2 linked regions of the Homo sapiens genome follow. The protein of the gene in region 1 interacts with the protein of each later gene in a pairwise test. Each region holds a gene or a part of one and is shown on either strand. Other genes may lie near its edges.

Evidence for each region. The genes of interacting proteins can lie anywhere in the genome.
Region 2: the proteins of ETV4 (region 1) and EPAS1 come close enough for resonance energy transfer, tested with the Homo sapiens proteins (one study listed by BioGRID).

Annotation. Positions count from the first base shown.
Region 1 is NC_000017.11:43,536,335-43,539,840, forward strand, and holds part of ETV4 (ETS translocation variant 4), read right to left. Parts: intron 441-3,506; exon of another isoform or gene 146-440; coding exon 92-145; coding exon of another isoform or gene 78-91; intron 1-77.
Region 2 is NC_000002.12:46,359,901-46,363,406, reverse strand, and holds part of EPAS1 (endothelial PAS domain-containing protein 1), read right to left. Parts: intron 2,770-3,506; coding exon 2,651-2,769; intron 2,523-2,650; coding exon 2,317-2,522; intron 1-2,316.

The sequences.
Region 1 (3,506 bases):
AACAAGCTGCTCTCTTGTGATTCTCTATCCTATGACTCACTTCCTGCCATCCTCCACTCCCTATACCCTCTCCCCAGGGACCTCTACTCACGGTTTTCTGAATGGAAATCAGGAACAAACTGCTCATCACTGTCTGGTACCTGAGCTGCAGAGAGAAGTCAGAGGTGAGTTTGGGGCGGAGCCCTGGTTGTCCCCTGGGAGGCTCCATTATTACAGCCCTGCAGATTAGCAACAGCCAAGAAAGGACCAACAGCCTTTAGATCAGGGGTGTCCACATTGTAAGAATTGTCTTGGGCCACACATAAAATACACAAATACACTAACACTAACGATAGCTGATGAACTTAAAATCACAAACAAATCTCATAATGTTTTAAGAAATTTTACAAGGAATTTATGTTGGGCCTGGGCCGCATTCAAAGCTACCCTGGGCTGAAAGTGGCCCACAGGCCCACGGGTTGGACAAGCTTGCTTGAGACTAAAGGCTGCTCCACCCTAGGTCCTAGTGTCTTCCACCTCTGGGCTCCACTAAGACCCAGGAGGGAAGACTGTTCTCAGAACCTGTCTGAGCAGATTCCAGTCTTTCTTCTTCTAGATGCTTTGTCTTTATTTCCTCCATTTTTCTGAAGTGAAACAGCCTCGCCCCTCAGAGTTTACAAAACTCCCTTAAAGCTCACAACAGTCATATCTAGGATGGGCAGGCATTATAAGCAGTGGGATCCTGTGGATTTAAAAATCACATAGGAGGCGGCCAGGCATGGTGGCTCACGCCTATAATCCCAGCACTTTGGGAAGTCAAGGCGGGTGGATCACCTGAGGTCCGGAGTTCGAGACCAGCCTGGCCAACATGACGAAACCCCATCTTTACTAAAAGTACAAAACTTAGCTGGTCGTGTTGGCGGGAGCCTATAATCCCAGCTACTCAGGAGCTGAGACAGAAGAATCGCTTGAACCTGGGAGGCAGAGGTTGCAGTGAGCTGAGATCGCACCACTGCACTCCAGCCTGGGCAACAAGAGTGAAACTCCATCTCAAAAGAAAAATAAAATTAAATAATAAATAAAATCACATAGGGGGGTGGCTGGGCGCAGTGGTTCATGCCTGTAATCCCAGCACTTTGGGAGGCTGAGGTGGGAGGATCACTTGAGATCAGGAGTTTGAGACCAGCCTGGCCAACAAAGTGAAACTCCCATCTCTACTAAAAAATTAAAAAATTAGTCAGGCGTGGCGGTGGGCACCTGTAATCCCAGCTACTCGGAAGGCTGAGGCAGGAGAATTGCTTGAACCCAGGAGGCAGAGGTTGCAGTCAGCTGAGATCATGCCACTGCACTCCAGCCTGGGTGACAAAGTGAGACTCTGTTCCAAAAAATGAAAAATAAAGGCCGGGCATGGTGGCTCATGCCTGTAATCCCAGCACTTTGGGAGGCCGTGGTGGGCGGATCACGAGGTCAGGAGTTTGAGACCAGCCTGACCAGCATGGTGAAATCCTGTCTCTACTAAAAATACAAAAATTAGGCCGGGCGCGGTGGCTCACGCCTGTAATCCCAGCACTTTGGGAGGCTGAGGCGGGCAGATCACCAGGTCAGGAGATCAGGACCATCCTGGCTAACACAGTGAAACCCTGTCTCTACTAAAAATACAAAAAAAATTAGCCGGGTGTGGTGGCGGGTGCCTGTAGTCCCAGCTAATCCTGAGGCAGGAGTATGCCTGAGGCAAGAGAATGGCGTGAACCTGGGAGGCGGAGCTTGTAGTGAGCCAAGATCAGGCCACTGCACTCCAGCCTGGGTGACAGAGCAAGACTCCATTTCAAAAAAAAAAAAAAAAAAATTAGCTGGACGTGGTGGCACGCCTGTAATCCCAACTATTCCGGAGGCTGAGACAGGAGAATAACTTGAACCCGGGAGGTGGAGGTTGCAGTGAGCTGAGATCACACCACTGCACTCCAGCCTGGCGACAGAGCAAGACTCCATCTCAAAAATAAATAAATAAAATAAAAAAGGAGGATGACAGTGGGAGAGCAGGAGGCTGGTGACTGGGACCACTGCAGAAGGCAAAGGACACTGGCTGAGTACATAGGTGCCTCATCCCCTTAATGTGCAGCTAAGGAGGGGAGGGATTCCCAAGGTTGGTGATCCGAAGAGCTCTCCCAGGATGCCAGGATGGGTGGAGCTGGGTTGGGGAATAGGCAGGAAAACTGAAATACAGCAGCAGCTCATCCATGGCTTCTAACCTGAACATCAAACTCTGATTTCTAGTTCTTATTCTGGCCTCCCCAGAGCGGGGCTTCTCAGGTGGTTATACAGCTAAGAATCTCCCTTGATCCCAGAGTCTTGGCCCACTTTTGCCCCTCTCTCAAAAATAAATGGATCACAGCAGGAAATGTAGACACCAAGAAGAACTTCCTGATATTATTCCAGGAAGAGAGTGGTTCTAGGGTGATGCAGTGGAACCTGTAGCCCGAGGAGGCTGGACTCTCCTTCCCTGGAGACTGCTCTCTCCTTCCCTGGAGACTGCTCTCAGATTGGACAATGGGGAAACTGATAAAATGCCCAGAGAGGTCAAAATGGCTGGTGAGGGGTATGAGATGGCTAGAAAAAACCTCCACACCCCCGGCCTATACAAATACATATCCCATCTCTTTTGCTTCTCTCTAGGCTAAGGCTCCATCATTTCTTACTTGGATTTCACCCACGGCCTCTTACCAGGATACCCTATTTTCATTCTTACCTCCTATGGTCCCTTGCTCTCCACCTAGGTGTCACAGTGATCTTTTTACAACAGAAATAAAATCATTTCTCTCTGTTATTTAAAGCATGAAATCCAAACGCTTGCCCTTGGCCTCCAAGGCTCTGCATGACTTGGCCTTGCCTACCTCTCTGACCTGCCTCTCCTTGCCTGTGAATCTGCAGCACTCTGGTCTCCTTTCTAGCCCTCAAAGCTGCTGAGCTTGTTCCTTCTTCCCCAGATGCTTTCTTGCCTTTTTCTTTTTTTCCTGACCATCAGAGTCTCAGCTCACTTTGACATCTCTGGAGAGGCCTTCTCTGACCACCCCTAAACCAAAGTGGTTCCTCCTGGCTCTCTATTGCATCTATGTTTTGTTTTCTCCCTGGCACATATTGCCACCTGAATATATTAATTTATGTTTACCTGTTTGTTATCTACCTATCTCCTCCACCAGGAAGTTAAGCTCTGTGAGGGCAAGAGCTTTATCTTTTTTGTCATCTGATGCCCCAGCACCCAGCACAGGGTTAGAGTAGACGCTCAGTGCTGTTATTTCTTGACTACATGAATAAACATGCAATAATCGTTTGTCCTCAGGCTGGCAGAAGTCAGCACTGTGGGCCTGAGGGCATGCACTGAAGAGATCCTGACCATCCTAGCCCTTCCCTGCAGGCTCCCCCTCTCCACACACAAGGCAACACTAGAGGCAGGTCCTCTCCAGGAAAGCACATCTCACAGGGGATATTTTAGGTTGTGATATGTTGCTTGGCAAGAATATTCTTCAACA
Region 2 (3,506 bases), on another chromosome or scaffold:
TCTTTTCTATTATGTAGGGATGCCAAGTTATTTTCTAGGACAGTAGGGTTTTCCCAGTGCTTATGGAGTTATGTTACGGATGTGCTTCATTCACCAGGGTGAAGCACGTATCTGACTTTCATCATCCCCAGCACTATATATGCTCCCAGGCTATATGGCTACGTCGGCTTGAGCCACTTCACCTCAAAGCCAGTGACACAGGGGCTATGCAGTGGGATTGTCCATGTTATCTCACAAGACTACTGAGGTACACAAAGCTGTGTCTTCTGCCCAGAATGTTCACCTGAATACAAAGACTGCATCTGATAAATAACCTTACCTATAACATGGATTCCTGCAGTGCCTGTCACTAAAAGTGCAATCTTCTTCTTGAACCACCATCATTATCACCACCACCACCACCACCACCACCACCACCACCACCACCACTACCACCACCACCACCACCACCACTAACAATTACAATAAATGGTGACTGTGTCGAAGTTCCAGGACGGAAGGCTTCATGCATGACATTTTCTCCCTATGAGGTTAGAGCATTTCTTTCTACTTATATAACTACCCACTAGCTCCAAAGGCTGTGAATCCTGGCCCTACTGTGGTCAGAACTGAAGGACAGGAATGACTCAAGGATACTTTTACAAAAGTTCTGAAATTGTGCCACAAGTGGTGGCCAACTCTAAGAAGGGGCGACCAACCAACACCAGGCCGGTCTGGAATCAGAGGAGAGAAACCCCATCCTGGAGAGGAGGGTCCCTCCCATGAAGAAACCAGATGCCCTTGGGATGTCCAGCTGATAAGAGAAAAGTGGGTAGGCCTAGGGGAGGCTGAGCAGGAGCTTTTTTTCCTGGGGTTCCATGGTTTCCTGCTAGCTGAGGAAGACAAGGCAGATTCTTGCTGATCTGGGGGTCAGATTCTTCCTCTTCCTGCCCCCCAGCCACTAACTGCCTTCAGAAGTGGTTTCAGCTCCTTGAGTTTAGTGGAAGATTTTGCTTTGGAGGAGGCCAAGGACAGGAAGTAAGATATAAGCAATAACAAGAAGCCTCACATGTGTTGTGGTGTCTGGACTTCTCAAAGTGCTTGCACAGCCATTATCTCATTTTACAGTGACCCCATGAAACAGGTTAGAAAGTGTTATCTCTATTTTGGAGAAGGGGAAACTGAGATCTGAGGGTTTCCTGAGGAGAAACCCTAGAAGATGAGAGAAGAGTGGCAAAGAGTTGGGGGTGGCAAAGAGCTGCCACAGGAACTGTCACCCTGGGACACATGGCGGCTCTAGATGCTGCAGAAAGCTGAGGTCAGGCAGGGAGATCTCTGCCAGGAAGGGCGCATGCGGGGGGTGCTGCTCAGCAAGCCCCAGTGGCGCTTACTCAAGCCAGGCCTACCCTGGGCCCAGTCTTCTGCATTTCCTTCCCTCCCTGGGGCCGGCCATTGCTCCGGGCATCTGTTCTCCCCATCTTCCTCCTCCTACCTCCCATCATCAGGCTCCACAGTCCCAGAGGCAGGGCTGGTGGGGGAGTTAGGAGCTGTAGGGTATCTAAATACTCCCTCCTATGACAACCCCAGTCTCTTCCCCACCTGCTTCAATCTTCTAAATGAGCTAAGAACCCGAGATGGCATGACATGCCTAAGCAGTCTTAGGCACTCTTTCAACAACTCTAATAAAGGTGATAATAAGAGCTAACACTGAACATTTATTACTAAATTTGAACCTAAGCCATCTAGTCCTGAAGCCCATGCTCTTAATCACTACTGTGTCTCCTAAGAGACACTGGGCCTGGCACTGGGGGGTTAGCATCTGGCTCAGCTACCTTCATCTTCTTCAAAATGGCTGGACACTGGCCGGAATGGAGTTGCATGCAGGAAGGAACAAGGCGGAGGGAAAGGCTCAGTCAGTAATGGAAGAGGGTCAGTCTCCAGGGCAGAAGCTGATGCTCCTTACTGGCCTCTGAAGCAGGAGTACAGATGGAAGTCTCTAGACTCTTTCTCCTGGGGCAGAAGACTGCCTTGAGAATTTCCTCAGGAGCCTGATACACGTATGGAGAAATATGTTCACACCACAATGATGAGAAGAGTTGCACACCAGGAAAGCTCTGCAGATGGACCCTGAGGCTCTGTCAATGGGAGACCACCAAATACAGTACCGGGAACCTCTGAGGGGCACTGATGCAATGAAACAGTGGCACAGGTCCACGAACATGCACCCGGCAATACCACGTCTATGTTCAGTTCCACACCTTTAATACAGGCACAACTCCCCACACACACAGGTAAGACCCATCTCTGCCCACAGCATACACACCCATGGCCCCCTACCTGTCATCACAGTAGGTGAACTTCATGTCCATGCTGTGGCGGCTCAGGAAGGTCTTGCTATCCAGGGGGATGTCCATGTGGGATGGGTGCTGGATTGGTTCACACATGATGATGAGGCAGGACAGCAGGGGCTCCTTGTAGCCACACAGACTATTGTGAGGAGGGCAGTTGTTGTAGACTTTCACCTGGCCCGTGCAGTGCAAGACCTGAGACAGGCGTGGAAGGGTCAGACATGGAGCCGAGAGTGCTGGGGGTGGGGGTAGGGCCTTAGGCATCCCCTGCACCGCCGTTACCCTACACCTGGGACTCCAACCCAGGCCTGATGTTGCCCTACCTTCCAGGTGGCTGACTTGAGGTTGACAGTACGGCCTCTGTTGGTGACCGTGCACTTCATCCTCATGAAGAAGTCCCGCTCTGTGGACATGTCTTTGCTTTTTTTCCCAAAACCAGAGCCTGGATGTGGAAGGATGGGAAGAACCAGCTGAAGTCAGTTTTATATGGATATTCATGAGAGGGGCCCAGCTGCAGTTTTTCTTGGCAGCCTATTGTTTATATTTTCCAAATATCTGCTCTCTTAGCACCTGTGGTCTGCCATCAACACTGAGCTCCATCATGGCCTGTGAACTAATGGTTCCCACTCTCAAGCTTATCTCCTCAACTGGAGCATAAACTCCCACAAGGGAGGAGCTGCTCCATCATTTGATTTCCCATTGCATCTGGAACATGGTCAGTGGTGCCTTCAGAGCAGCGACACAACGACTGCCTATCAGCCACTAACTCAGCCACCCTTTCCTGGGGCAGGCCCAGGTCTTCTCGCAGAAATTCCAAGGGACAGTCTGAGTGAGGCCACAGTTACTCCAAGGGTGTAAGCCTTCCTCACAGGTTAGAAATGTCTCTCCGACACTCCCGTCTTTCCTTTATAACCTGTCTCTCAGGAGGAATTTAACCCCTCCTGTACCCCATTTGCAAACTGCAATAGCTGTGTTCAGGATACCATGCCATTAGCTTTGTCCCTGAAGTGACATATGTATCAAGGCTCTAGAGAGAACTCTGGTACGAATCTCCTTACAGTGGACTTGGTGAGCAAGTCCACTTTATGGATTAACTCAACCTGGATCATATCCTCTCTCTCAGCAAAAATTAAATCACCAAGACCAGCAATATAGCTTACTTCCTTATAGTTGCCAAAC